Regions from separate parts of the Homo sapiens genome. Here region 2 is linked to region 1. Evidence: fine-mapped expression QTL. A gene starts in region 1. The other region holds a variant in brackets. All regions are shown on one strand. Distances are from middle to middle.

The links.
Region 2: its variant is fine-mapped to the expression of CD1D in whole blood (TOPMed, PIP 0.94).

Annotation. Positions count from the first base shown.
Region 1 is chr1:158,173,033-158,184,098 of GRCh38, reverse strand. It overlaps CD1D (CD1d molecule), which reads right to left and starts at 3,204. Exons shown (of 6, transcript NM_001371762.2): 1 at 2,937-3,204; 2 at 2,378-2,644; 3 at 1,789-2,067; 4 at 943-1,221; 5 at 64-163. The coding sequence starts at 2,997. LOC105371460 (a long non-coding RNA gene) reads right to left here. Exons shown (of 5, transcript XR_922187.3): 5 at 10,885-11,066. It also overlaps the pseudogene ELL2P1. RefSeq lists an enhancer at 2,674-2,733 and a silencer at 4,146-4,195.
Region 2 is chr1:158,145,363-158,156,428 of GRCh38, reverse strand. The region is part of intron 1 of LOC105371460 (a long non-coding RNA gene); the gene reads right to left. Among named protein-coding and RNA genes, the nearest start is that of LINC01704, 10 kb to the right of the region's middle. The variant A/G (reference allele first, on the strand shown) is at 5,684.

The sequences.
Region 1 (11,066 bases):
AAGGAAAAGGGAAGCCAGGAATGAAGGGGAGAGAGGTTGAGGAAAGGGAAAGGGGAGACTTACGTTTGCCTCTTAAACCGGGAGGTAAAGCCCACAATGAGGAGGAACAGCAAGCACGCCAGGACTGCCAAGGCAATCAAGCCCATGGAGGTGTAGCTCCCACCTGCTCTGGAGGAACATAGGCTGTCTCTCAGCACAGGACCCCTCTCTACATATATCCAATCCCCTGGTCTAGGCATGTGTGAGGGTACCAGGTGCTTCTTATTTCCTCCTCCACTTAAAACCCCAATTTCTATTCCTCATAAGTTTAGATTCCCCATCTTGTTTTCAGTGCCTGGGCATCCCAAATTCAGCCCACTTTGACATTTGCTAGTGTAGCATAGAGGGAAAGGGCAACAGCTTTGTAGCAAGGCAGACCTGAATCTAAATCCAGCCCGTCCACTTTCTATGTGGCTCCGGGCAGTTAACCTATCTCCGCCTTCATTTCCTCATCTATATAACGAAAAGAGCAGTACTTGCTTCAAAGAAAACTGTGAATGATGAGATGAGATATTATATGCAGATTCATTGGCCCCTACACAGGGAGCACTCAACCAACCAAGCTATCTTTGCTAACCTGCCTTCCCAAAGGCCTGGCTCCCTTTAAGCCAAGGAATGAATCGTCCTGGGATTGTTTATTCGCTGCCTACTTCTGGATCCCTGAGTTTTGTAGTCTTGTTTCTTCTTGTATATAGAGAGCACTATTTCAATCCTTTTAGACTTTCAGGTCTTTATTTCCCTCCTTCCTGTGTCTGGAACCCCTCTCTCTATCCTTTTACTGGGGGCCTCATCTCTGAAACTCCTCTAACCTGGGTATATCAAGCCACATCCCACCCCAGTGCCTCCCTCTATGCCTGAGGACCACCTCCTGCCATTTCCAGCTTGGGCCCAGCTTTTTCTCACCCCAGTAGAGGACGATGTCCTGGCCCTCTAGACTGCTGTGCTTCACCCGACAGGACAGGCCAGCTGCCTCCCCAGCCACCACATCCAGGGTTGCTCGGAGATACCATGTCTCGTCAGCATTGGGCAGGATGTCCCCTGGCTGAGTGCCCTGCTGCTCCTGCTCACCCCGCATCCACTTCACCCATACAGGCTTTGGGTAGAATCCTGAGACATGGCACACCAGCAGCAGACGGCCAGGGCCAGGACTGGGGCCACGGGACAGCCAGGCCTTGGGCTTCACTGTATCCAACAAGGGAATGGGGGGGATCTTAAAGTGAAAACTCTGCATTAGAGGCTCCAGGCCTCATATCATCCTTTTTGACTTTCAGGTCTTTATTTCCCTCCTTCCTGTATGCCCCTGACATGTTCACTTCTGGAAATGAAGTCTCCCACAACTTTCAATCCATTTGTCCCACCTTCTTCAGGGAGCCTGCCCTGATACTCCTTCTTCTTCTCTGGTCCCAGCCTCCTATGAATGCCCCTTGTCTGTTCCCCTATAACACCCTTTGTTTTGAAGTAACATATGTAGCCTATTTCAAGCATTGCATTAATTAACATCCCCCTACCAAGCAGGGATCCTAACTAACTGCCTGACACCTTTCACCCCCAGTTGTTCATTAATTGAATTCATAGAACCCAAGAGGTGCTCAGTTGATGTCTGTGAAATGAATAAATACCCTCACCCCTTATCCAGCCCCTCCTGGGCCTTCCTCTTCTTTGAATGCTCAAAGGGATGAGAACCCTGGAATGGAAAAGCCCGTTTGGAGCCCTGAAGTGGAATGCAGGGAGTAAGGAAGGCAGGCTGACCTTGCTTCTTCAGTTCCGACTTCCCTGACTCAAGGAGGCCACTGACAAATTGGGGGCAGGTGCCATTAAGGAGCCACTGCACTGTTTCCCTCGTCCACTTGTCCTGGTTGAGCACTTGAATGGCCAAGTTTACCCAAAGTGGGGCCTCTTGGGTTGGCTCCCAAGAAGTTCCTTGGAAACTCAGGATATCTTTTCCTTGAAATGCTACATGGAAGAAGTTATTTGAGGCGTTCCCAGGGTGCACCTCACAGCCAGCGGACACCTGGAGCTCCAAGGGATCTGTGGAGAGGAATGGAGAAAGATCAAAGAAGGGTTTAAAAGACTGGGAGAGATGAAAGAGAAGAAATTGATGTGCAGGTTATAATGGGGACCCAGACTTCAGGGAAAGGAAAGTAAGTGACCTGGAGTAGGCAGGAACGAGGGACACTTTGAGGAGTCAAAGCCTGGGACATCTCCAGGTAGAAGGGAAATCAGAAGAGGGTGGACAGAGCAGAGAATCTCATCAGGTGGTGCCACAGTCTCCCAGTTGAGTTTCTGTGGCCATTCTCTCCCCTTGGGTACCGGCCCAGGATCCTATCCCTCAGCTCACAGGATAAGCGTAGCATTTTGGCGAATTCCTTCACGTCCCTGGTGAAGCTGCTTCGATAAACCCGAAATATATGCTGCAGCGTCTCCCACTGCTGGTCGCTGAACGTGCCCTGGGACCAAGGCTTCAGAGAGCGGACGGTGTCCGAGTCGTTGCTCCAGCTGTGCGTCTGCAGCTCCCCCAGCCACGCCAAGCCGTCGGTGCGCGTCCAGCTGCTATTGGCGAAGGACGAGATCTGGAGGCAGCGGAGGGGGAAAAGCCTTTGCGGGACTGGGAGAGAATGAAGATTGGAGGCGTGTAGCAAGTGGCCGGGAGAGCAGCCAGCATAAAGAGAAGGAAGAAAGAAACAAGAGGAGATGAGCTTCAGGAGGCGGCTGATGCCAGCGAACTCTGTGCCGCGCTGCCTCTCCCCGGAGCCAGGGAGCAGCGAGTTTTCTACCTAGATCGCGCCAGTGCGTCCCGGGTCTCACCAGTCCCCATCAGGCGTTGCCCTCCCCGTCCCTACCCAGCTCCCTCTCTCCGCCCTCCCGCGAGTGCACTCAAGCGCCCTCGTTCCACCCACCTTCAGCGCTTCCCCAAGCCTGGAGGAGCGCCCAGAGCAGCAGAAACAGCAGGCACCCCATATCGCCCGGCGTGGGGACCTCGCGGAGCGCCGCTGCGCGCCGCCCTCTGACCTGCGCACTCTTCTCCCCCGCCGCTCAGCTCACGTCCCTTTCCGCTGGGTGCCAGCCAATTCCCAAGCCCAGACCCCGGCAGCCCTCCTCGCTGGGCTTGCCGGCGGTTTGCTGCTTCTGCCGAAGGGCGCCCTCGCCCTTAGCTGTGCGAGCTGCAAAGAGGTCGGGGTCCCAGGAATCCTGGCGCCGCCGCTCACTTCAGTAGGTTTCACAACCGGCGTGTCTCAATTTCCTGTTTCAAAGGAGACTTTGGGTCAACGTGTGGGACGCTTTACAACCATTATTTATGTTTTGGAAGCAGGACATAAGGTTGTGTCTGTGTTACAATTCCAACCATGGTAAAAATGCAAAGGGAAAAAAGGATCAAAGTCCTTGCTTTAGCAGTACATGTCTCTAGGTGGAAAGACTATGAGTGATCTTAATTTGCTTTACATCTTTATGTTTTCCAAAATTTCTCAAGTGCAAGTACCACATTTACAATAAAGTAAACGCATGAAAATTAATTTCCTCAGTTGCACATTGAGAGAACTGGATTAGGTTGGCTACAATTCTTTACAACTGTCATATCCCAGGATTCCTCCACCTCAGTGTTCCCTAGCCTCTCTTTCCTCCTGTCATGGTCCTTGCTCTCCCCTCCCCGGCCTCTGCTCTGTCTTCCCTGTCTCCTTTTTGGGGACGCGCCCCCAGACTCTCTTCCTCCTCTCCGCCCTAGGCTCTGCCGGCATACCTTCTCCTCTGGCTCCTGACTCATTCACTTTCCAAATATGCGCCTCTGTCTTAAACAGTAAGTGTAAGATGACAGTGTGTACCTGGACAGCCAACTCGCCACTTCTCACACTGAAAATAAGAAAAAGTGACCAAAAATCGTGGTTCTAAGCCTTAGCTCACCTGGAGGAAAAGACTCCTCTTTGGCAACTCAGAACCTGGGCTGCAGCCTGACACCTCCCTCTCCCTCACTCTTTTTATCCAATCTATCTCCAACTCATCTCTATTTCACTTCTTTTTGAATACCTCTTGAATAAATTCCTTTTTCTATATTTCCACCGTCACCATCACCCTAACCTTTTGACTGATCTCCTGAAGTAGCATTCTTGGGTAGAAAACAAAATCATTAGCACGGCCTGCAAGATTATGCGCCCTCTAGCCCTGGTGTCTACCTTTTGACATCACCTCACACCCCAGCATCATTTGCTCTGTACTGTAGCCTGGCTGTTAGCTTTCAGTTCCTCCACTATGCAAAACCTCTTCCTGACTAAGGTCTCTGCACAAAGTTCCCTCTACATGAAAGCTCTTGACCTTCTCCTCACCTCACCCCCTCCCAATGCCTAGTTATTTCCACTAAGGTATCAGTTCCAAGGTCACTTTCTCAGGGAAGTCTTTCCAGATCTGCCAGACTGTGTGACCCTAGGCAGGAGAAGTAGGGCAGTCCCAACCTCCACTGCTTGTACACTAACTGGCTTTGAGAAGCCATCCTCTCAGCATGTAGCAGAGTTTATAATTATAGAAATGGCCATATGTCTGTCTCCCTCTGTGTCCTCTTCTAAATCAGCTGGAGAGGTGCCAGAAGGCAAGGATCATGTCTCCATAATCTGATTCCTCCCATTCTGCTAACGTTAATGTTTCCCTTCTCCCATATCCTGTTGCAGCAAGAGTCCTAGAGAAAATAGGCTACTGCACCACACTCTAGGCTGGGATCTTGTAGACAGCCCTAACCCAGCCTATCTAATTATGTGTAATTTGCCCAAAAAAGCTTAAAATAACATAGTAACGTGTTCTTGTAACAAATAAGGTGTTAAATTATTAAATTTGGATACAAAATTGCCTAAATAATGGATAGGAGGGAAGCTATGAGAAATAAAAAGAAAAATAATTATATGACTCATGGGGCAATATTTTTAACTTTACTTTCTTCAAATTTCCAAGCTCCCTTTAAAAACTTGAACAGTTCTGTTTAGTTTTTGTGTATCTTAAAAATTTTAAGTGCTAACATTCTTGCACACTTAAAGACAAGAAGCTGGTTTGTGTGTGTGTGTGTGGTTTTTTTGTTTTTGTTTGTTTATCAACAGAGGCCAGGCTATATTACCTTCAGAAGTTAGGACTATCTGGAATTATACGGATATTTTTTCCCAAAGGTCAGTTGAGTTAGACACTTTTTGGCTATTGGAACTTTCACTGCTTTTTTTCTGGGAAAGGAACCATTGAATTATGAAACGTTTTGCAATATGTTACCTAAACAAAATATTTTATAACAAGACTGACTCAGAATACCCTAGCACAGAGAGATGGTGATTTACTCAGAGCCTTAAAATAAGCCCACGGTGGGTACTACATGATCTCACTTATATGTGGACTCTAAAATAGTTTACTATTTTATGGAAACAGAGTTAGGGTAGTGGTTTCCAGGAGCTGGAGGGAAGGGGCAAATGTGTTAATTTTGGTCAAAGGGTTTCAGCCTCTCAATTTTGAGAGGCTGACCAAAACCTTGGAGCCTGATCATAAGGGACTTACTTGGTTTCAGTTCAGAATTCACAATTCACAACGTCAAATTAGTTGGAATCTTATATGCTTTCTTCATGTTTTTGTTATCCTAACCATAAGGAGACCATTTAATGTACAAAGGATAGCTGCATATGAGAATTTAAGATTCTTGAGAGGACACATCAGGGAAACTTTTATAATAGCTATCAGGAGGATAATACCAACGAACTAAAGAACTCTTCTTAATAGCACTTTCCACAAGCCAACCTGATCAAAATCAAACAATTCAAAGTTCAGTCAATAAAGTTTAACAGCATTCAAGTGCAATTGCTCATAGTCTTTATTCAGAGCATAATGGTGATCAAGGACCGTAGTTTGCTGTAAAATGGCCTGATTTAAAGAGGTATTCATTTTTGTAAGTAGCCTGATAATACAAACCACAGTAACCTGGAGATCCACTAAAAGAAACATAAGGATTAGAAAACCTTGTGATAGCTCTCTTACCTCTCGGACGTCCAGTCCCAGGAGCAAAACTCCAGCGACTTTGGGCCCCGCCCCCGTGAAAGTGGAGGGCGGCCGATGAGGACGGTTCTGAGGGAACTAGACCAATGAGACTAGCCTGGGGCGGGGCGCGGGGCCAGAGGGTGGGGCAGGTGGCGGCGATGGCAGTCCGAGGTCTGGCTCCGCGCAGTATATGACAGTACGCCAGCAGCGGGATGGCCCTAGCAGTGGCGGCGGCTGCAGAAGCCCAAGCAGCTGCGGCCGCAGTGGAGGCTGGAGCTGGACTGGCGGCGGCGGCACCTCTGGGAGTTTAAGATGTCGGGGGTGGGGGGGTCGCGGGGCAGCGCTATGGGCTCTCGTGCGGACGGCTGGGGCAGGACAACATCACCGTACTGCATGTGAAGCTCACCGAGTCGGCGATCCAGGCGCTCCAGACTTACCAGAGCCACAAGAATTTAATTTCTTTTCGACCTTCAATTCAGTTCCAAAGACTCCAGGAGCTTGTCAAAATTCCCAAAAATGATCCCCTCAATGAAGTTCATAACTTTAACTTTTATTTGTCAAATGTGGGCAAAGACAACCCTCAGGGCAGCTTTGACTGCGTCCAGCAAACATTCTCCAGCTCTGGAGCCTCCCAGCTCAATTGCCTGGGATTTATACAAGATAAAATTACAGTGTGTGCAACAAACGACTCGGATCAGATGACACGAGAAAGAACGACCCAGGCAGAGGAGGAATCCCGCAACCGAAGCACAGAAGTTATCAAACCCGGTGGACCATATGTAGGGAAAAGAGTGCAAATTCGGAAAGCACCTCAAGCTGTTTCAGATACAGTTCCTGAGAGGAAAAGGTCAACCCCCATGAACCCTGCAAATCCAATTCGATAGACACACAGCAGCAGCAGCGTCTCTCAGAAGCCATACAGGGACAGGGTGGTTCACTTACTGGCCCTGAAGGCCTACAAGAAACCGGAGCTACTTGCTAGACTCCAGAAAGATGGTGTCAATCAAAAAGACAGGAACTCCCTGGGAGCAATTCTGCAACAGGTAGCCAATCTGAATCCTAAGGACCTCTCGTATACTTCAAAGGATTATGTTTTTAAAGAGCTTCAGAGAGACTGGCCTGGATACAGTGAAATAGACACTTGGTCATTGGAGTCAATGCTCTCTAGAAAACTAAATCCATCTCAGAATGCTGCAGGCACCAGCCGTTCAGAATCTCCAGTATGTTCTAGTAGAAACGCTGTATCTTCTCCTCAGACACGGCTTTTGGATTCAGAGTTTATTGATCATTTAATGGATAAAAAAGCCCGAATATCTCACCTGACGAGCAGAGTACCACCAACACTAAATGGTCATTTGAATCCCACCAGTGAAAAATCTGCTGCAGGCCTCCCTCTGCCCCCTGCAGCTGCTGCCATCCCCACCCCTCCACCGCTTGCCTTCAACCCATCTGCCGGTTTCACATCCTCCTCAGATTGTAAATTCTAACTCCAATTCCCCTAGCACTCCAGAAGGCCGGGGGCTCAAGACCTACCTGTTGACAGTTTTAGTCAAAACAATAGTATCTATGAGAACCAACAAGACAAGTATACCTCTAGGACTTCTCTGGAAACCTTACCCCCTGGTTCAGTTCTATTAAAGTGTCCAAAGCCTATGGAAGAAAACCATTCAGTGTCTCACAAAAAGTCCAAAAAGAAGTCTAAAAAACATAAGGAAAAGGACCAAATAAAAAAGCACGACATTGAGACTATTGAGGAAAAGGAGAAAGATCTTAAGAGAGAAGAGGAAATTGCCAAGCTAAATAACTCCAGTCCAAATTCCAGTGGAGGAGCTAAAGAGGATTGCACTGCCTCCATGGAACCTTCAGCAATTGAACTCCCAGATTATTTGATAAAATATATTGCTATCATCTCCTATGAGCAACGCCGGAATTATAAAGATGACGTCAGTGCAGAGTATGATGAGTACAGAGCTTTGCATGCCAGGATGGAGACTGTAGCTAGAAGATTTATCAAACTAGATGCACAAAGAAAGCGCCTTTCTCCAGGCTCAAAAGAGTATCAGAATGTTCATGAAGAAGTCTTACAAGAATATCGGAAGATAAAGCAGTCTAGTCCCAATTACCATGAAGAAAAATACAGATGTGAATATCTTCATAACAAGCTGGCTCACATCAAAAGGCTACTAGGCGAATTTGACCAACAGCAGGCAGAGTCATGGCCCTAGAACTCTGCTTGGACCAGAACATGTGAATAAACTTAAGCTTATTTATTTAAAATTCCAAATGAGTTGCTCTAGATTCTAAAAAGGTGAAACTTTGGCTGTTGAAAGTTTCAGTATTAGTAAACTTCAGTTACTTTTTCTTTTCCATTTTACTTTGCTTCCCTGCATTTCAAAGCTGCTCTTTCTGGTTCTCCCCACCACCCCACCACCGAGACTTGTGTTTGTTAATGGAAATAATTTTTTAGGAATTGGGGATCCATTGTCTATATTTCAAATCATTTTTTCCTCAAAAACTTGTGTTTGTTATTAGAAATAATTTTTTAGATATTGGGGATCCAGTGTCCACACTTAAAAGTTGTATGTGTTTAAAAAACAACAACAGTAGTGTGCAAGGTGAGATGCTTTTGAATAAACGTAAGCCTATTTTCTGACCTTTCTTAATGCAAACTCTTTGCCTTAAATGGTAGGATATTTAGAAATTTGCACAAAATTAAAAAAATAAACATTGTCTTGGAGGGTTAAAAAATAGAAAGGTGTACGTGTATAGATTCACATACACATATGTATATACAGGCTGACTTGATCTAGAACATTAAATCCACCCTGCAAGTTAACCCCCCATTGCAATGGTTGCCTTAAGGTATTTGCTAGTTGTGTATATAGTGTGGTTAATCACTAGCTACACTGTTTCCCACTTGATTAGAGCAATGGGAAGCATATTTTGGCCTACCAGCATCTGGAAGTGTGTGCTCAATCTGTATGTGTGCAGAGGCGGTGTGGATGTGAGCGTGCATGAAGGAAAAAAGCTGCTACTCCTAGTAGGCCAAACGCTCAGGTTAAACAACTGACGAGTGTTACTGTAGGGTGTTTTTTTGTTTTGTTTTGTTTTTTCTATCAAATTGCAACTTTTGTTGTGGAAGACAAAAGCATTTCCATTTCAACGAGTTTGTCAGCTTTATTAATGTTGGGCAAAAATTGATATGTCATGAAAATGAAACAGATCTATAGTTTTGGGACAAAATTATAAAATTAAATGTGTAGGTAACCTATTTATATACTGCTGTAAAGTATTTTTTGAAGAGAGATATGCAAAGAAGCTATTACCTACATAAGATGTATACTTAAAGATTTTTTTTTCATCCTGGTGCCAGGAATATAAAAAAGAGTGGATATATTTAACCATAACATACTGTGATTCATCAAGCAGCACAAACTTTCATTTCATGCAGTTTATGTGTTGACGTTGATTTAAACTGTCACTTGTTTTATCATGTGGGAACATAAGTTATGTGGTCAAAAATATAAGGATTTTGAACTAATACTGATTCAATTTGCATTGTCTTATTGTATTGTCTTTTCAAAGTGCTGCCAGTTGAAAAGGGAAGCATTATGTTTACAAATCTGTTTTGAAATGTTTGCCAAAATTTTGGTAGTGTCTTTAATAAAGATGTTTGTCTCCAGCATCCAGAAAAACAAATAAATAACTTTGTTGTGAAAAAAAAAAAAGAAAACCTTGTAATAGCCAAGTTTGCCATCCACTATGAAGGATGCCTGCAAACCAATTGTTAGCTGCTCCTGTAAATACATTATGTGTCTTTCCCCTAAACAAAAAAAAATTCCTTAATGTATTTGGTGGCAGCATCTAGAGGAACAGCAATATTAGCTACCTTTTTAAGTAAGTGTCAGATAGTAGTAAAATCAGAGAAAAGACAAGTGCAACATTCAGTTTTGTTCAACACCACATACAATGCCCAATAGGGGCATAAAGGAGATCTAAGGCTATAAGATGTTTCATTAAGTGTTTAGTTAAACAAAAATGTTTTAGAAAGTGTCTGCAACCCTGGAGGTCTCACTGGCTCCAAATGCAAGATTTTTCCCCAACTTGAACAGATTGGTTTCAAACTCCATACAACTAGTACCCCACTGCTGCCAACAGTGAGCCCCCAGGAACTTTATTGGAACCTTTCCTCCACAGAAAATAACTGATCTTCATCTGTTTTGAGGTTGGTTCTAATTTCAGTTATTGACCTCTTTGGCCTGTGAGTACCATGGGTAATTCCAGGCAGAGCTTTTTGGAAGGCAGGAGTGAGCAAGACCAAACAGAAAGATCCAAGCCAGCAAGGAGGCAATGTACAACAGAGTACACAATTTCTCCATAGACCCAATATAGGATCTCAGGGGCTGAAAATGAGGTGAAAAATACCTAGTGGTGTTTGAGCAGAGGTCAAGTTATTAATAAATTTATCTGCCCATAAGTGAGCATAGCTCCTGAACAAGGTCCAGTGGGAAACTGACCTTTTTGTGGTCCTTTTATAGCATACTGTAAGGGTACATAAACACGTTTAGTGGAAAGACACCTCACTACATTTAATCTAGTAAGATCATATAAGCAATTACTCTTACCCACATAGGTAGTCCCCAGGTCTTGAGTTTGCAATACTTGGAGGCACAATATCCCTTCTGCAGGCATCACTTGGATAGATTTCATATACTTGGTAGTAATTAGGTTAATTATTGGAAAGGTTAGGGTATTGTTTCCATTGAGTGCAGGAAGCCAAATAACAGTGATGCTAGAATATCAGGGATAGCTTTCCATTCTTCCTTTGAGATTTCAGGTGGACTCTCGCTGGGAAAACAAAGAGGCACTGGCATTAATGGAATTGTTTTATCATTTGGGGGCATTAGTCCACACACCCCAAAATTGCTCTGGTTTCTTGCTAGAGCATAAGCCTTCACTAAAGCCATTCACAGATTATGGTCCCATGGATTTTCCTGTAAGAAAAGAGAAGAGATTAGAATAAAAAGAAACACAAT
Region 2 (11,066 bases), 28 kb after region 1:
TTTTTGTATTTTTATTAGAGACAGGGTTTCACCATATTGGTCAGGCTGGTCTCGAACTCCTGACCTTGTGATCCGCCTGCCTCAGCCTGCCAAATTGCTGGGATTACAGGCATTAGCTACCGCACCTGGCCCTCATTAATAATTTTTAAACTACTGATTACATGTAGAAATTAGTTTGGATATGCTGGGTTAAATATATTATTAAAATTAATTATTGCCAGGCACAATGGCCCATACCTGTAATTCCAGAATTTCGTGAGGCTGAGGCAAGTATTACTTGAGCCTGAGTCCAGGAGTTTGAGACCAGCCTATGCAACCCAGTGAGATCCTGTCTAAAAAAATAAAAATAAAATTGTACCTCGTTCTTTTTACCTTTTTAATATAGCTACTAGAAAAATTTCAGTTACACACATGGCTTGCATTATACTTCTCTTAGATAGTGCTATATATTCTATAGCCATTCTAACTTCTAAATTTGGGACTAATCATATTGTGCATAGCCTCACTCAACCCTCAGGCCTGACTCAACAATGTCTGGCTTCATTCCTTGACTGTTGCTGCCCATCCTGTGCCAGACTGATAAGACACTCCCATCAGCCACCCAGCAATAGGTACAGGAAACATAACCATGGACAACAGTGCTGCCTTAAGGCAATTGTGCTCTACTTATTGAAGCTCTACTATTCTATCTATAGTGTAGCTTTACAATTTTTACAACCCTGTTTTATCAGTCCCATTTGATGTTAAGTGTTTATATAAGGAAAAAAGCACTAAAAGAAGACAACTATTAGGAACACTTTGGTTCCTTCTCCCCAGCCTTGTTTAAACTTTTTAATTTACATCTTATTAAATGTAGCTGTATATATTAATATATTTTTATATATGTGCAGATAAAACTATTGGAAGGGAAATTTCTAAAATGTTAACAATTTCTAAAATGTTAACAGTGTTTTCTCTAGGTAAAGATAAAAACAGGTGACTTTTGTTTCATAATTTTATGATTTTTCTGAAATGTCTATAATATACATATATTGCTGTCATAATCCAAGGGTAAGAGACCTCAATTTATAATCAATCACCCAAGCCTGATAAAGCAGAGCAAGCAAGTCTGTTCCACGTCGCTATGAAGTCAAGAGAAAGAGTGGGTTTCCTGTGGGGTTTGCTCACCCAAGAACCAAATGAAACAAGTCAAGCTGCTGGCTGATTCTCTTTAACCATCCCAGTAGACTGTCTGCAAAGACTCTTAGTGGAAAGAGAAGGAGGTAGTCCAGGATTTTGAGGATGAAAATATAGATTCAATGAAGGTGAAGGGGGAATTTCCTGAGTAGATCTGCCTACATCAAGCAGCAGATGAAGTCATAGGTTCCAGAACACTATATCCCATCTTATTTAGGCACCAGCCTATTTAGGCACCAGCCACCTCACCCCAAACACACAAATGATCAGAAAAAAATGGGGTACTTGAGGAAAAGCAGCAGAATCCCCAAAGACTCCCAAGGACCAAGATCATTTCCCACTCTGCCCAAATATGCCTCCCTTGCCTCGATGTTTGTCCATGCTGTCAAGGTGCTGTAGTGTGAGTATGTAACCACTGGTATGTCTGACTGAGTGATCAAGGGTCACAACACAAGAAGAAAAAGGACAGGAGACAGCAGTATAATTTGTCCTCATTTAGCATGTCCATGTTCACATCTGCATCCCAACAACCCCTCCCTACTAATGAGGAACTCCAGGAATGTACCAGAAATGCCAGTGACTCCACCCCACCCTAACCCCACCATACCTTAGCCAACAGAACATAAGGAAAAGAGTAAGAGCTTTTTAGTCAAACAACGCTCAAACCTTGGTTCTTTCATCTCCTCCGTCACTAACAGCAGTGAGATTTTGAACAAGTTATTTGTTTCACAATCTATAAAATTGTGGTCAAAGTGCCTCCAGTGGGAGGGAGACCAGCCAGGACCCCTTTCCTAACAGGCAACTTTGTACATTTCAGTAATGCTCCCCAGGTACAGTAAATACACAGTCCAGGTAAAATGGACCTCCTTGTAGTCCCTTCTACCTCTCCCTCACCCTCCCTTATTCCTTTCCTCTCTAGACTCTCCTAATGGACTAAACATCCTCCTCATATTCATTTTGATCGGAAAAAAAAAGGGAACCGAAGCTGACCTTCTACATCTCCCCCTGCACACTGCTTCCAACACACACACCCCTCCCCCTGCCAAAGCTTGTTCACAACAATCCTGATCGCGTTCTTGCACCTTATCAGGATTCTCTGCACATGCTATGTTTCAAATGGACACATCATCTAGGAAAAGTTTTCACTGGGCCTAGAAAGAATCCTTAGACCCAAAAGAAAGAGGATAAAACAAATGAATAACTGGCAAAAGGAAAAATGTACGCTTGACTTCATAGCATCTCTGAAAAGAAAACTAAACTCAGAAGTACCATTTTGAGTAAAATTGTTCTTCCCTTTCTTGCTTCCCCTTCTGCTGTACAGTTTCTTTTCCCAACAATCTTTTCCTCAAATAGAGTTGTATGAGCCACCTGGGGAGAGTCAAAGGAAGGTTGGTGTGTAACCCCAGGGAATTCCCAATATGAGGGAATTCAAGTGAAAATGAAATGAACAGAGGGAAACTATTTAGTGACAAAGAATCTAAATTCCAGCTTCTGAATCCCAGAGCCATTTTTCAGACATTAATATGAAAAGAGAAAATACTGGCAATATTGAGGCCATCATAAAGAATATGCTTTTACAATGAATTAGGCAGAGGAACAAGGAGTGGTTTTTTGGTGTGCCTTGCTCCAGGGCACCTACATCTATCCGGGAAGACATGTCATAATTAATATAGCTTAAAGGGTGGCAGAAATTGAACAGGCAGTGAAATGAGGAAGATTTCTAGTGCCTCCTAAATGGGGACTTCACATTGTGGTGTCGTGATATGCTAGGAAGTAGTATGAATTCCCAACATTAAATATAATCAAATGAAAACACTACTCCCAAACTAAAGAAAGATGAGCCTCTTCACAAGTCTATTCTCTTCACAGGATGTAAGGATGACTCAGAGTTGATCATCCTTACAAAAATGGCCTACAATTCAATATCAGCAACAAGCAAGAAACTATTCTATTCAGAGAATATTCAGAGAAATTCCATTTTCAAGTGATACTAACTCAAGACCTACAGAGTCTTCATATTTATTTTAATTTCATAAAATAAGCCTAAGGCTGGAAGAAAAATATATAGACACTTCCGACAGATTTTGATACTAAAAGCAATCATCCATATCCAGCACCTTTCCATGTAGCCAGTGACGAGCAAGCTGGGTTTAACTAAGCAAAATGTATGAACATAAATGGTGGGGGAAAAACTCAGATCTGTGGAAAAATGATGGGGACTAATGGGGGACGGGAAGCACAGAGCTGTGAAAAAATGACGGGGAAGAGGGAAGCAAGAAGGTTTAAAGGGGTTTAGCAAAAACAAGAGCTTTACATTCACTCATCTACTCATACTGACTGTATGCCAGGTACTAGGAACACAATGCTGAATAGGACATATTCCATGTCTGCATGGAGATTACAACTAGTAAGGTGGATATACACCTAAGCCTGACATAATACAGCATAATTAAGTACTAAAGTCGGGGCAAACCAACTTGAGGAAAGACCCCTTAACCCATCATGGGGTGTGAGAGGTCACGAAAAGCATCCCAGAGTAAAGAAGGTCAGAAGCCAAGGCAAATGCCAAGGTGAAAGGCATTGTGAACAAATCTCCTTTCCTACTCACCTAATGTCCTTTTTACTTTCACTTATGGCCCAGACAAAAGGCGATGATCAAAAGAGGTGGGTAAACGGACCAGAGGATGAAACCAGCTGAAACCATGATGTTATAATCACACATACAACTATGTGAAAATTTGAGAATACAGGAGGGAGAGTGTAACTCTGAGACTGACAGAGGTGATGTTTAGGCCAAATAGTGGAGGTTGGGTAAAAAAAAAAATGGCAAGAGAATCGTAGTGGGAGACATTGACAGAGTATTCATGGCTGATCGATTTCATCAGCCCAAACAGAACTGTCACCTAGAGTCCACTGCTCAAATTGGCTCCTTTTATTTTTTCCTGGTAAACTAGCCAACATATGTGGAGTATGCTCAATTGCCCCTTCTAGAAGGCCTTAAAAAAAAAAGTGTTTTTTTTCTCTCTTCAGTATTTTATTTGATGTTTCTGTTAGATTTCTTATCCCTAAGCAATGGCAGAAAAATATGTTTGCCAATATACAATCAGCTCTGAGAGTCAAATGAAAACTGTCCTTCTTTACATGTATAGGTTTCTCCAGTGCTGCATGAGGGCGCAGTTGTGCTCAACTTTTTCTCAAGGTCAATACTACATTTATAGATTTCTTCACCATTGAGGATTTTGGTGTTGGATGAAATGAAGGCACCAAAAGATGCTTCACAGCATTGGACATAATATATGGGACTTCTCCTTCAAGTGGATTCTCTTGAAGCTGAGGAAGGACGGCACACTAAGTGAAGATCTTCCCACTTACTGCCTGCACAGACCCACTCCCCTGAAGAATGCTTCTGTGGAACAATCACATCTTAGGGGAAATCACTGACATATTCTTCTTGGTGAGTTGCCGTCTATCTTTCACTGTCTTCCTGTTGCTGAACAATTTACAGATTGGAGGATGTACAGCATTTATGGACCTTTCTTGTAATATTTCAGTATACTGTGATACCCTGGAAATGTCCTGCTAACCAAACCTGAGTAAAAAAAGAAAAAAAAATACATGTCTCAAATGTATATTAGTATTATGGGAATCCAACATTTTTGAGAATTCAAAACAAAGGAAGAAAACCAAAATGAGGTATAGCCAAATTTCCAACTTCCTTCCTTCCTTCTTTCTCTTTTTTTTTTTTTTTTTGGAGACAGTATCTCACTCTGTCGCCAAGGCTGGAGTGCAGTAGCATGATTATGGCTCTCTCTGCAGTCTTGACCTCCCAGACTCAAGCGATCCTCCCACCTCAGCCTCCCGAGTAGCTGGGACCACAGGTCCAGTCACCACCATGTCTGGCTAGTTTTTGTATTTTTTGTATAGATGGGGTTTCACCATTTTGCTCAGGCTGGTCTCAAACTCCTGGGTTCTGGTCAACTTTCATTCATCCATTATCACTCTCCACTTTCAACTATTACTCTACATATTTTTTAAATGAAAAATAGTATTGGTTTTATTGCATATTTCATGCTTTGAAAGAGATAATAAGCAGATTCTGGAAGTTCTTTGAAAATACAACCATGGTGTTTTTGAGAGCTAGACTAAAATATGACTTTAACATGATATACAAAAGAAATAGCTTGGGTCAGAACAAAGGGAAGGGGGCCTTAAGAATGGGAAGTGGAGTGTATAACAGAGAAAGATGTGAAGAAGCAAAATACTTTGGAATTAGCTGGGGTAGGTATGGGAAGGAGCAGAAGCACACACAGAAAGGTAAAAGATAAATCGATGTCATTCTGCAATGTTGCTCACCTGTATATCTGTGTTCTCTACAACTGAACTCTCAGCATCTAAGATTCTAACTAATGCATCCCCACCACAGAGCTCACAGACCTCTGCACACAGCCAGCACTAAAGAGTTTTTGAGGGCACAAGAAGTTTTACTCTCTCTTCCCCCTCTTTCACC[A/G]TATATCTCCCTGACGACTTCTTCAAACCTAATACATCAGTTTCCTCTCTTTTTCCAATTTGTTTCACTTCCCACTCTCTGACCTAGAAGTCAACCCAGGGTTAGGTCCTCTGTTAAATGACAGGCTGTGGAGGCCAGAGACAAAATGGCAGGTCTGAGAGTTCCTATCTAAGGCCACCAGACTTCAAAGAAGCAAAGAGGCTACAGAGAGGTAGAACATAGAGGTGGAACCAGAAGAGACAAGGATCGGAAGAGAAGCAGAAATAAGTGAAATGAAGTAGGATGGTTCCGATCTGCTCGTGCCTAAAAACATTTACTGTGGGATCCTTTTCTTAGGGTCCTTGGCGTGACTCCTGGGGCAAGGGCAGAGTGTTAGAGGAGCCCTGTCTAGGACAAAAACAAGAAAAGGTACTCACGAGGGAGAGAAGGATGAAGATTCCAGGAACTGCGTGTGAGAAAGAGGACAGAAACAGAGTATTTAAGACTAGTCGGAGCTAGTATGAAATAATAAAGGGAATCTGTAGGTATTATAGAGGGAAGCCAAAGATGTGGGAGGAACTGAGCGTTAACGAAGGCAAGGCAGAAAGTGACCCTAGAAATGCTGTCGGGTTTCCAGTCCCTGCTCACACTTCATTCAATGTCTCATCCAAAAGAGAAACAGCAGAATTAAGCCACACCCACGTAGCTAGTCCACACTCGATTCCCCCGTGCAAGCAACTTTTTCTCAAATGATTTTCTCAAAAATCTTCGTGACTCAACTAGTCGCGAAGATTTCCTCTTAAAAGAACAAACTGCTACCACCCTGCAAAAACTACAACACCCATAGTGCCCCGCGCACAGCCCGAGTGACCCATTCTCTTCCGATTCCCACCAGCTAACGGTCTTAGCCAATTTCCTCGGCCGGGAAATGATTTGGAGCACATGCGCACTTCCCCTCCTTGTCCTGGGCTGGCCTCCAACTTGGAACGCCGGCGAACCGCCTGACCTCTTCCGGCGGCCTCAGCCTGGGACGCATGCGCACATCGAGGCTCCCCGACATCAGGCGCGGGTCTTTAATTACATATTTTGCTATGCTCCAGGCTATGCATTTGGAACAGTGCTTTCCTTTTTATCTTTATTTTGTTTCTTTTGCTTAACTTCGGGATGCAGCAATGAAGTGTTATTAAAAGAGCCCTAAAGCTGAGAGTGAAATTTGGACTCTGTAACAAACCAGCTGTGGGGTCTTAAGCAAGTCACTTAAACGTGGGGACCTCGGCCTCCAAACCAGATGACACTCGAGGCACAGCCTGCCTCCTATCGCTGCTGGAAAGACTGTGGAAATGGTACTGTTGGTGCCCATAGACCTCCAGACCCCCATGGGACAGCAGCTGGGCATTCCTCCACCATTGAATGAAGTGTGAGCAGGGACTGGAAACCGGACAGCAATTCTAGGGCCAGTTGGAAGGAGAGGTAGGGAAAGAGAAGCTTCCTTCGCCTTTCCCTCGAGCCCACGTCTCATCAGTAAGCAATTCCTGACAGTTCTCCACCTACATATCTTCCCACTTTTCTCCATCCACACTGCCATTTCTCTATCTCCACTGCCATACCATTTTCTCTTGCTTAAATGATTTCCCTGTTTCTAGTCCCTACCCTACCGGCTGTGGGATCATTCTAAGATGCAAATTTGATCATTAAAATATTTCATGGCTTCTCTTGGCCCACAGAATAAAGTCCGAACACCTTAACAAGGCTGTCATTGCCTGACTTCTTCCTAGTCTTCCAGACTTCCTTCTCTCCCTCTGTGTTCCAGTCATCTTCAGAAACTATCAGTTTAACAAACCAGGCTGCCTCTTACTTCAAAGACTTTTTGCATGTAGAAACAACTTAATGAACATTCTGAACTCTGCTGAACATATTCTCAATGAGGTTTTAACCAGTGCCTTCAACCATACTCTCAGTTCTTCCAGCCCTGACGGATTCTGTAGTTTTCTGTTTACTTAATTATTAGAAGTCCAGTCTAATGCAGTCCACTTAAAATCTTACATCTCATTTCAAGTTTTGCAGTGAGATTTGCAAAACTTCCTTCCTTCCCCTCAGCACCAGCCAGACTTGAGCAGTGGAGCTTGGTTTGGGGAAGTGGTGTATTCTGTCCTTTAATAGAAGTCTGCCTTTCCCAAAAATACTTATTGTGTTGGGACCCTGAGGAAAAATCAGGGAGGGCTGGGAAGTGAGGGCCAAAAGTCATTTTGCCTAACTGGGCATTTAATTGCAATTGTCTGTTGGTTCTCTCCACCTCTCAGTTGAAGGCTGATTGGTCACGAATACCTTCCATTTGGAAGGTACCCAAATGCTAGTTCTTAATAGGCACATGGGTTAGTTCCCTGGGAGCTCTCCCCAGTACACAATTCCTTGATGGGAGATCTGCTGCAGCTTAAAACTGTTACTGGTAGAGGGTCTTGACTGCAAGTTGTCCAGATTTTTGGCGTTTTCAACAAAGGATTGGACAAAACGCACAGCAAAGCAAGGAAAGAAGGAACAAAAGCAGAGATTTATTGAAAGTGGAAGTACACTCCACAGTGTGGGAGCAGGCTGAGCAGAGGCTCAAGGGCTCTGATGCAGCATTTTCTTGGGTCCAAATACCCCCTAGAGGTTTCCCATCGGCCACTTGGTGTTCACCCCATGTAAATGAAGTGGTGGCCCACAATCAGTCTGATTGGTTGTGGAAAACAACCAATCAGAGGCTGAAGTGAAGTTACAAAGTTACACTCCTATGCAAACATCTGATTGATTGCAAAAAGCAACCAATCAGAGGTACTTTCAGTTTCCCATCTGCCCTGCAGAAAAGGTAGGAGTTTTTAAAGGGAGCAGCTTCTGGTCCTTTTGTTACTTAGGCGTGGAAAGTTAAGGCTTTCCTTTCAATTTAGTTCTAAGGAAGTCGGCATGAAACCGCCTTAGGTTCCTTGCCTTCAGACCCTATTCTCCTGCCTCATAACTACTTCCCACAACCCCTCAGCCCTGCTCTTGGTGGTATAACTAGGTTCCCTGGCTTGGCAGCCAATTCTCTTGGAAGGAGAACCGGCAAGATGGCCCACACCCTGTTGAGTTTCACACTGTTCATTTAACTCACAGTAAACTCACACCGATTTCCACACTGTTCATTTGACTCACACATCCTTGCTAAACCAAGTGGTAAGAGTGATAGCTCTTTCCCTGTCATCCTTCTCTCCCTGCTCTAGTGATCACAGAGTACAGATCAACAAGCTCATCAGCAGATATCCAACCAGAGATTGAGATAACAGTCTCTTCTTGCCAGCCCACCAATTTCTATGAGTGATTCTCTTGGAGACCCCTCACTTGGAGGAGGTGAGAACAAAAGTCACATCACTCATTTCCGTGGCTGGGTACACACGACTCCATCAGTGCCCTTTCTCTTTTTACCTCCATATTATCTTCTAGGGGATGGTTTTAAATCTAGGAGATGTTAAGGATGGGGAGCTGTAGTATGGTTCGGGGTAGCAGAACTAACTTTCCACTTTTAATGGCACCTCTAGGATGTTAGCGCAGGACAATATATTCCAAGTGGCCTTGGACAAACCCAGTTCTCCTCTCTTTCTTGCTTGTTATTCTCAAGAAAAACTGTAAAATGTGCTGGGAATACAATATCCTGAGAAAGGAAGGAACCGCTTGAAATAGACTGGGCCTCCTTGTTCCTGTCCCTCCTAGGGAATGTAACATCTGGAGTTAGAGAGGAGGTGCCAGGGACAGCCCAGGCTTTGTACCTCTCTCCCCTGGAAGCAGGATGCCCTTCCCAGCTTTGTCCAGTGAGTCACATGACCCCTGAGGTATATAACTCATAGTGGGCTGCCTTTTGGGGCCCCTCACTTGTGGTGCACATGGGGCATGTACGGGCAACACTCAATCCTGCCCAGGAAGCTTCCTTGAGCCTTGAGGGCTGCCTCACAATGGATCCTAGGCTTCTTTTTTCCCTTGCTGCTTGCCTGTAAGTAATAATCCCACCTCACAAAATTTGTTGCATGTGAGTGTATCTCCAGCAGACATTGGTAGACCTTCAGGCCAGGATGTAGTGGGCAGAAGTGTGTGGGCTCCTATTTCTGTCGATTGGCATAGTGTCGATCTCTGCTGTCCTGCTTGTAGTGGGAGTCTTCTCTTGGGATTGGTTATTAGTGAACCTGCCTCACAAAATTGATGCTATGAGCAGGGTCTGATCTGACAGAACCATGGCTTTCTGGTGAAGTGGGACGGTGATATCCCCCTGTATCTGACCCAAGGCAGAGATGTCAGCCTGGGCATTCAGGAACTGACGGGACATGCAGCTGGATGAGTCATGGGGAGGGAAGGATGATAAGCGAAACATAGTCTCCCCACCTCCCCTGCAGATGGGAGTGAGCTGGCTGCATAGACCGAGGAGAGGGTATGGAATGTAGAAACAGGATAGAGCAGTGTACAATTCCCTGGGTGTTGGGCACTTACGTAATCGCTCATTCCCAGGCCAGAGAGCTTGGGAAGTGGGTATTCTGATGGACCCTGAGGCACTTGAGAGAGAATGGGAAAGAGGTCCTCAGACAGTCCCTGGAACATCTGAGAGGGAACCAACACACACAGGGTGGGTCTTCACAGATGGGGAGACCGCCTATCTAAAGGATGGATATGGAGGAAGGCCAGGGAAGTCTTACGCAGCCTGGGCGGTGTGTTTGATAAAGGACACTGCAGACCCAAATGTCTCAGGCTGAATGGTGCAGTTAGAAATGGAGCCAAGGTCTCTGGGTCCCCACTGAGTACCAATGGCTCCATACTCCTGTCAGGATAAAAGGGGGAAGGAGAAGGATTCAGACTTTTCTGGGGTTCTTGTGCCCTGGGGCCCACATTACAATATTTCCAGGTCCCCTTAGGGGAAAAAAAGTTAAACTGATGACATCAGGAAGTTTGGAAATGAATATGGTAGCTCATGGTACCTATTTGCTTGTGGTGCTTATCTGCTTGTGGGTGGGGCCCTTTGGGCCATTTCAGGTGCCAGTGATCATGATTCCATCACTAAGTGTATTGTAGGCACTGACATTTTGGCTGCTTCTGGAACAAAATATCACCACTGCCTGAGGGGGTATGTCCTTTCACAGCTAAGAGTTCAAGCCATTAACAGTGGGGTATAGGCACTCCTGCCTGCCACCTAAGCTACTCAGGACCCATTGGGTTACTAAAAAAAAAAAGCAGTATTACATATTAAATGGAGAACAGGACATTACTTAGCTAATTCAAAACTTGCTACAGATAAAAATGTTATAAGCTATGCTTTCACAGTGTAACTGCCCAATTTGGCCAGTCAGAAATGCCTTTGGGGCATGGAGACTCACAATGGACTGTCCCAGGCTGAATGCCAAGGCCATCT